Regions from separate parts of the Homo sapiens genome. Here region 2 is linked to region 1. The links come from fine-mapping of genetic effects on gene expression. A gene starts in region 1. The other region holds a variant in brackets. All regions are shown on one strand. Distances are between the middles of the regions.

The links. PIP is the estimated chance that this variant, and not a neighbour inherited with it, causes the effect. A credible set is the group of variants that fine-mapping cannot tell apart.
Region 2: its variant is the best candidate, but not a certain one, in a credible set for the expression of LRRC4B in subcutaneous fat (GTEx, PIP 0.53).

What each region holds. Positions count from the first base shown.
Region 1 is chr19:50,566,672-50,571,175 of GRCh38, reverse strand. LRRC4B (leucine rich repeat containing 4B) reads left to right here and starts at 2,741. Exons shown (of 3, transcript NM_001080457.2): 1 at 2,741-3,232.
Region 2 is chr19:50,540,888-50,544,887 of GRCh38, reverse strand. The region is part of intron 2 of LRRC4B (leucine rich repeat containing 4B); the gene reads left to right. Among named protein-coding and RNA genes, the nearest start is that of LRRC4B, 26 kb to the left of the region's middle. The variant A/C (reference allele first, on the strand shown) is at 2,355.

The DNA of each region.
Region 1 (4,504 bases):
CCTCAAGTCTGTCCTCCTGACCGCCCACCAACTTCTCTCCTCCCTAATTGTCCTCTTATTTTCTTCATTGCTCACACTGCTCTTGGAAATAGGACCTTGAGGGGTCAGTTCCACGGGGACAGGGGCTGTCTCCTTACTGTTCTCCGGCCGGGCTCTCAAAGCCCTGAACAGTGCCCGGTGCTGAAGACCCTTGATGAGCTCTGGAGGTTGACGGCAAATCATTTCTCCTTCAGTAAAACAGGGGCAGTCATACCCTCCAGGCAGGGCTGAGACTTAGGCTGCATGGACCAAGAGGGTTCGCTGGTTGTTCAAATATTGGAATACTTCCCTGCTTCTCTAACGGCCCCACCTGACACGGCTTGGCCTCTCACCTGAGACCCTCTTGGTTTGTTTTTTGAGACTGAGTTTCGCTCTGTCACCCAGGCTGGAGTGCAATAACGTGATCTCGGCTCACTGCAACCTCTGGAGGCCTCCCGAGTTCAAGTGATTCTCGTGCCTCAGCCTCCCGAGTAGCTGGGATTACAGGCGCGCACCACCATGCCTGGCTAATTTTTGTATTTTTAGTAGAGATGGGGTTTCACCATGTTGGCCAGGCTGGTCTCGAACTCCCGACCTCAAGTGATCCTCCCGCCTCGGCCTCACAAAGTGCTGGGATTACAGGTGCGAGCCACCATGCCCGGCCGAGACCCTCTTGTAATGAAAGGGTTAACTCAGGGCTCATCAGGGGCCTGCTCTCACCTGTGCCCACCAGGTACCACCATCCCTAGGAGTTGGTACCGCATGGTTGCAGGATTGATGCCACGCTTGTGAGGTGCTGGGCACAGCATCTGGCCTGTGGGAGACCAGGAGGAACCGCGGGCTGCCACCATGTGATTCTGTTTTGCTGGTATCACCATCGGTCCTGGCCTACTCTGTGCTGGACCCTGGTGCACACACACATTCACTGGTCCAGTCTCACGAACTAGACTTGAGCGGCGCCAGGGGCGGGTGAAACCCGAAGCACCACAGCCACCTGCCACTCCCTGGCCCTCGCCCAGCCCCTTCTCAGTTTCCCCTCTCGGCAGCTCTCAGGGCTCAGCACCCACCAGCGCCCACCCAAAACCGCCTCTTCCGAACCCATCTGTGACCTGGCTTCTCTCGGGAACCCTGGCTCATTATAGATGTGTCTGGCCCACTTTCCTTCCAGCTTCCAACCCTGACTCTCCCCAGGCTCTGCCTGCAGGGGTACAGCCACACTTTCCCTCCCTGGGGCTCTCCGAGGAGAAGGGGAAGAGGGAGAGTCTGTCCCGGGTCCCCTGGCACTGAAAGAAGGAACCTTCATCTTTCTTCTCTCTCTCCTGAGTCCTCAGTTATTAGTCAGCGTTTTGGGGGATAACAAGGCAGGGGTGAAACTTCTGTGCTAATTTTAACATCTGGAAGGATCTTCAGTGTCCTGGACAGGGGCCACCCCTCCTTCTGGGTTTCTCCGCCCCTGATTCCCGATGTCCCCCTTCCTTGGGGCCCAAGCTTTTGGGGTAGTGGACCGGGGAGGTAGAGGGGAGGGTCACGGTGACCTCCCAGAGGCCTCTGCATCTGCCCTCCCCCTCCCTGCACCCAAGATGCAGCTCAGCTTCACAGCTCTAAATGCGTCCCCAGCACCCGCTGCCAACACCTGGGGGAGGTGAGAGGAGAGTGAGTAGGGAGGCTGCAGGCTGTGCCCTCTGCCCCTCCCAGGTGCCTCCACCTGCCAAGTCTGGACCAGGGACGAAAGCTAGGAACTGACCCATTCTCCATCTCCCTCAGGGTACCCCCAGCCCAAGACTGCATTCAAACCCCATCCTGGCTCCTCCAAGAGCTCAGTGGTCTCTTCTGGAAAATGGGTTTGAAGGTTCTTCTCTTCATGAGGTGGAGGGGCGGACGAAGCGGGCATACAGCGGAGTTCAAGAAAGGCCCTCTGTCCCCTCCCCCACTCTGTCTACTCCCCGGGCTCTTGCCACCCAGTCTTGGGCCCTCAAAGCTCCAGCTCCCCAGCTTCTCTCCTCTCCCCCGAGATCTTTCTCCTCCCCCCTCCCCCCGACGGGTCCTTCCCTCCCTCTTCCATCCTCTCATCTCTGTCCCACTTAGATCCTCCTGCCTCTTCCGGGTCCTGCCAGCTTCCCCTGCTCTTCCTGACAACGCACACCGCACCCCCCATTCTTCTCCCCACAGCCCCCGCCGCCCTCCAGGCCCCTCTGTCCCCTGCAGCCCTCAAAGTTAGGCCTTCCCTACCTCCTCTTTCCCCTCACTTCCCTGCCCCTGGGCCTCTCCTGCCCATCTCTCTACCCATCTCCCCCTCCACTCCTCCTCTCCCTCCTTTCCTCTTCCTCTACCCACTCCCCCTGCCCCCCGCCCTCCCCTCCCCTTCATCCAGGACCTTATTGCAGGAGTTACCCCCTCCTCTCCCCTCCCCTCCCACACCCTCTCCCCTTTCCCTCCTCTCTCCCCTGCTCCTCCCCTTTTTCTCCCCCTCTTCTTTCTTCCACCCCCTTCCCACTTCCTTCCTTCTTTCCTCCCCTTCCCTCTTCTTTCCTCCCCCCCTTCCCCTTCCCTCCCGTCTCCCTCTCCTTTCTTCCCTCCCTCTCCCATCCTCTCCGGTTCTTCCCCCCTCTTTCCTTCCTCCCTCTCCACGCTGCCCTCCCTCCCCTCCCTCTCTCCCCCCTTCCTCTCCTCCCGGGCCTCCCTCCCTGCTCCCTCCCTCCGCCCGCCCGCTCCCACCATCATCAGTATTCCGCTCCCGTCTCCGCCGCTCTCGGCTGCTCTCGGTCGCTGCCGCACCGTCCGAGGCGGGGGCCGGGGCCGGGGCCGGGGCCTGGGGGGGGGTGGGGTGGGGGGAGAGCGGCGCCGGCGGGCCCGAGGAGGGAGGAAGGAAGGAAGGAAGGCTGGAAGGAAGGAAGCCAGGAAAGAAAGAAGGAAAGAAAGGAAGGCAAGAAGGAAGGCGGGCGGCGGGCGAGGGCGCGGGGCCGGACGGCAGGCGGGCGCGAGGCGAGGAGGCAGAGCGGCCCCCCCAGCCCCACCGCCGCCGCTGCGGAAGCCCCCTCCCCACCCAGGAGCCGGGGAGGGGGGAGAGCGCGAGAGGCTCCAGGCCCGGCCGCAGCCCCGCCCCCCGCGCCTCCCCGCAGCGGGCCTTGCACCCCAAATTCCTGAGCCTCATTGGGGGGGTCCTCCCCCCACGGGCCGGGCATGCTGCCCCCCGGAAGGAACCCCTCTCCTCGCTGTGAGTAGCCGCCAAGGGGCACGGGTCGGGGGCGGGGGCCGGAGGCGGAACCGCGGGGGGTGGGTGGGGGGCATTCGCTAATTGGGGGACAGTGGTCTTAGGCCTCCTCCGGGATGGGGGGGGATGGCAGAGGACAGGGGGCGGGGCCTAATGGGAGGCAGAAGCCGGTGGGGGAGGCGACTGGGTGGGGGTTCTCCGGGCAGGGCGAGTTCTGTGCTGTGGGGGGGGTGGTTGTCGCCGCTGCCTGGGGACAGGTTGTGGGGGGTGCGTCCGGCGGTCGCTGCGTATCCAGCTGTGGGGCTGAGGAAGTAGGCTTAGGGTGGGGGGCTCTCCGGGCGTAGGTCCGGGCCCCCCTTTCTGGGGCGGGAGTCCAGGTTCTTCCTCTCCCCATGGCCCCTCCCACCCTCCACACCGCTGCTGCTTGGGGTGGGGGGGGCACGCCAGTGATGGGGAGGGGGGAGAGGCGGGCACGGGGTTTCCTTGGTGACCGCGCCTGGCAAGAGCGGTTGCCGTGGCAACCGGGGAGAACCGGGGAGTTTGGGAAGTGAAAATGGGAAAGACGGAGGGGGTGATTGGGGAGTGAGACAACCCCCTCCCCAGTCTTCAGCCCTTCTCCCTCTGGGGTCACCCCGCCTCTCCTGGTGGGCGGCTCGGACCCCTGCCCCTCCGTCTCTCCAAGACCCCCGTTCCCTGACCCCACTAGGCTTTGGGGCCTTCTATCCTTGGGCACGTGTCTCTCCAGGACCACTGCCTCTCCCACCTCCCTCCGCCCTCCCCTCCTGGAAACCTCTCCTCCTGGAGACCCCCGCCCCCCATTTGCTGCCTCCTCCCCAGGCTTCCGACCCTCACACCTGCTCTTCTAGGACCTTCTAAGACACGGCATCTGCTCCTCAGCCTTCTCTAACCCCCATCTCTGACAATCCCCCAGATATCCCTCTCCAGACCTTCTGTCCAGGAGACCCTCACTTCAGCCGCCCTCTCCTCTAGCTCCCTCCTCCCACTCCCTCCCCGCCCCTCTTTGGGCCTTGCACCCCAGCCTCTCCCCTTTCTCCCCAACACCCCCAGTCGCCTTCTCCTTAGCCCATCACTCTCTGAAACATCCTTCTATGACCTTTCATCACCCAGAGACCCCCTCCATCGTTGTCTCCTCACCCCATAGTACTCCCCAGTCTCAGACCCCCCCAATCCTAGCTCTCTCCTTTTGGGAGCCTCTCCTTCCAACTCACCATCAATCCCGGGCTCTCAGGGTTCCCCCCATCTCTATGCCCCTGC
Region 2 (4,000 bases), 26 kb after region 1:
AGACAGGGTCTCACTATGTTTCCCAGGCTGGTCTTGAACTCCTGGACCCAAGCAATTCACCCACCTTGGCCTCCCAAAGTGCTGGGATTACAGGTATAAACCACCTAACCCAGCCATAAGTGTATTTTTAATTACTTATTACAGAATGAATATAAATTAATTGAGAAAAACTAGAAAATATACCTAAGTAAAAACAGGAAGACAGAAGCCAACCATAATCCCACAGCCATGGGTAGCTCTCCTTCGCTTTGGTGTCTTTGCATTCGGACACCCTCCCCACCCATGCACAGTGTGTTGCACAATTGCTGCTGATTTGTAAATGGAGTTTTAGCTTTTTTATTTTTTTATTTTTATTTATATTTTTATTTATTTTTTTTTTTTGAGACGGAGTCTCGCTCTGTCGCCCAGGCTGGAGTGCAGTGGCGTGATCTCGGCTCACTGCAAGCTCCGCCTCCCGGGTTCACGCCATTCTCCTGCCTCAGCCTCCCAAGTAGCTGGGACTACAGGTGCCCGCCACCACACCCAGCTAATTTTTTTGTATTTTTAGTAGAGATGAGGTTTCACTGTGTTAGCCAGGATGGTCTTGATCTCCTGACTTCGTGATCTGCCCGCCTCGGCCTCCCAAAGTGCTGGGATTACAGGCATGAGCCACTGCGCCCGGCCTATTTTTTATTTTTTTTGAGATGGAGTTTTGCTTTTGTTGCCCAAGCTGGAGTGCAATGGTGCAATCTCAGCTCACTGCAACCTCTGCCTCCCGCGTTCAAGCAATTCTACCGCCTCAGCCTCCCAAGTAGCTGGGATTACAGGCGCACACCACCACGCCCAGCTAATTTTTTGTATTTTTAGTAGAAACGGGGTTTCACCATGTTGGGCAGGCTGGTCTCGAACTCCTGACCTCAGATGATCTGCCCGCCTTGGCCTCCCAAAGTTCTGGGATTACAGGCCCAAGCCACCACACCCAGCCAGCATCCTGTTATTTAACCAGGCCCTTCTTTTTCTTTTTTCTTTTCTTTCTTTTTTTTTTTTTTTTTTTTTGAGATGGAGGCTCACTCTGTCACCCAGGCTGGAGTGCAGTGGTACAGTCTTGGCTCACTGCAACCTCTGCCTCCTGGGTTCAGGAGATTCTCCTGCCTTAGCCTCCCGAGTAGCTGAGACTACAGGTGCCCACCACGACACTCAGCTAATTTTTGTACTTCCTAGTAGAGACGGGGTTTCACCATATTGACCCGGCTGGTCTCGAACTCCTGGCCTCAAGGGATCCGCCCACCTCGGCCTCCCAAAGTGCTGAGATTACAGGTGTGAGCCACCGCGCCCGGCCTCCTTATTTCCAATTTCTGAGTTGATATGAACAACACCGGGGGGACATCCGTTGGCTCATTCTTCCTAATGTTCTGGACTCTGCCCTTGGGATAAATTCCTAGAAGCGGAGTTTCTGGGTCTGAGGGATGATGAGAGAAGCACCGCCCTGTGAGTTCTATGTGGCTTCCTCATTTGAGTGTACTTCTCCCTTACACACAGAGACACACACACACACACACACACACACACACACCAGGGCCTGGCACTGGAGCATTGGTAGCGGCAGGCTGAATTCTGGGGATTCCAGAGCCTCCCGTGTGACCTGCCGCCTTGGTTGTCATCTGTCCCCCGCCGCGCTGCCACCTGCATGAAGGCAGGGACTTTGCAATGTTCCCTGCCGGATCCCCAGCACCTAGGGCCGAGCCTGGCACACAGGAGGTGCCCAGCAGTTGTTTGCCTCTGAATGGGAGGCCAGCTCCCGAACTCCTGCCCGGATCCTTGGCAGAGGCCTGCAGCCATCTGTCGGTGGGAGCCGACGCGAATCCCTGCGACGCCCTCCCGTGAGCTCTGGGGGGTGGCTCAGAGACTCCTGTTCTCGCCTGCCCCTGGCCTGGGTGCGGTGTGGGCAGCAAGAACCTCGCGGGGACTTTGGGGGACTCTAAGTCCACGGGGTGACGGTGCTGGCCTCTCTCTGGGAAGCTAGAACGTTGCCATTCATCTTTGGTGAGAGAGTTAAAATGTTCTTCTGCCACATGACAGAGACAGTAGGTGGTCCCCATAGTAAGACAGAGGATGTGTTTTTTAAAATATCATGGCCAGGCGCGGTGGCTATGCCTGTAATCCCAGTACTTTGGAAGGCTGAGGCAGGCAGATCACCTGAGGTTAGGAGTTCGAGACCAGCCTGGCCAACATGGTGAAACCCCATCTCTACTAAAAATACCAAAATTAGCCAGGCATAGTGGCGTATGCCTGTAGTCCCAGCTACTTGGGAGGCTGAGGAAGGAGAATAGCTTGAACCCAGGAGGTGGAGTCTGCAGTGAGCTGAGATCACACCA[A/C]TGCACTCCCGCCTGAGTGACAGAGCGAGACTCCGTCTCAAAAAAAAAAAAAAAAAAAAAAAAATCAGCAATTCTCTGAGGCCCTGCCCCGGCCCCACCACTGTTTTTTGAGATTGGTGGGGCCTGCAAGCCTGGAGCCTCAGGAAATGCCTTTTAAGGCAGAGGCCAGGAGACTGCCTCCCCGCAGCTCACATGCCCTGGCCCCCTGGGAGAAGACCGGGTGCAGATCTTCGCCTCCATCTCCTCGGGACCTGGGGGGAAGGTGCACCACCTCGGCTGGGCCCAGCCTGTCCACTCCTCGCTCCTCAGTCAGGTACCTGGTCCTCACCGGACTGGCTCCTTCCTCCTTCCCTCCCTTTTATCCTCATATCCCCGCCTTACCCTCTCCCCACAGAAAGTCCTCCTAATGTGTTTACTGTGGATTTTTTGCTTGTGTGTGTTCTTGCAAAATGGGTATTGTTGCTTTGCGTACACGTATTCTTAATTTATGCAGATGAAGCTGCGTTAAGATCGCTGTCTTTGTCTCACTGTGTTCGCTCGGCCTGTGTTTCTGAGAGTGGTTCATATTGCTGTGTGTGTCCACTCTGCTGCTGTTGCTGCTACAGAATTGATGGGCACCCACCCCCGTCCATCTGCCAAGTCCCCCACTGCTTCCTGATGAGACTGGACGTCCCGGAGGCTTCTAGCTGCCCCACCGCAAATCCTCCCTCAGGACCCCTCTGGGAGCTGCATGATCATTTCTGTGGAATATATACCCAGAGGGAATTGCCGGGCCGTAGGATATTCATGTACTTAATTTAACAAAGTACCACTGAATCCACCCAAGGCTTTTAGCGGGCGGCTCTGGGTCCCTCCTGGGGCCGGCTATGAGGTTGTATGGCAAGCAAGTGTGGTTCCAGCTTAAGGAACAAACCAATCCATCCTAAGGAAATTATTAGAGGGGCTTCAAAGAGTTGTGTTTAAGGATGGCCCGACTACCAACGTTTAGAAGTAGCCTCAACTCCTGCTGACAAGGGACTGGTTACATCAGCGGTCCCCAACCCTTTTGGCACCAGGGACTGGTTTCATGGAAGATAATTTTTCCATGGACTGGGGTGTCGAGGAGATGGTTTTGGCATTACATTTATGGTGCATTGCTTTTTCTTTTTCTTTTTTTTTTTTTTTTGAGATAGAGTCTTGCTTCACTCTGTCACCAGGCTGGAGTGCAGTGGTGCAATCTTGGCTCACTGCAACCTCCGCCTCCCAGGTTCAAGCGATTCTCCTGCCTCAGCCTCCCGAGTAGCTGGGATTACAGGCACACCCCACTGTGAGCGGCTAATTTTTCTTTTCTTTTCTTTTCTTTTTTTTTTTGAGACAGAGCCTCTCATTTTCGCCCAGGCTGGAGTGCAGTAGCGCCATCTCGGCTCACTGCAAGCTCCGCCTCCCGGGTTCACGCCATTCTCCTGCTTCAGCCTCCCGAGTAGCTGGGACTACAGGCACCCACCAGCACGCCCGGCTACTTTTTTTGTATTTTTAGTAGAGATAGGGTTTCACCATGTTAGCCAGGATGGTCTCGATCTCCTGACCTCATGATCCGCCTGCTTTGGCCTCCCAAAGTGCTGGGATTACAGGCGTGAGCCACCACGCCCGGCCGGTGCACTTTATTT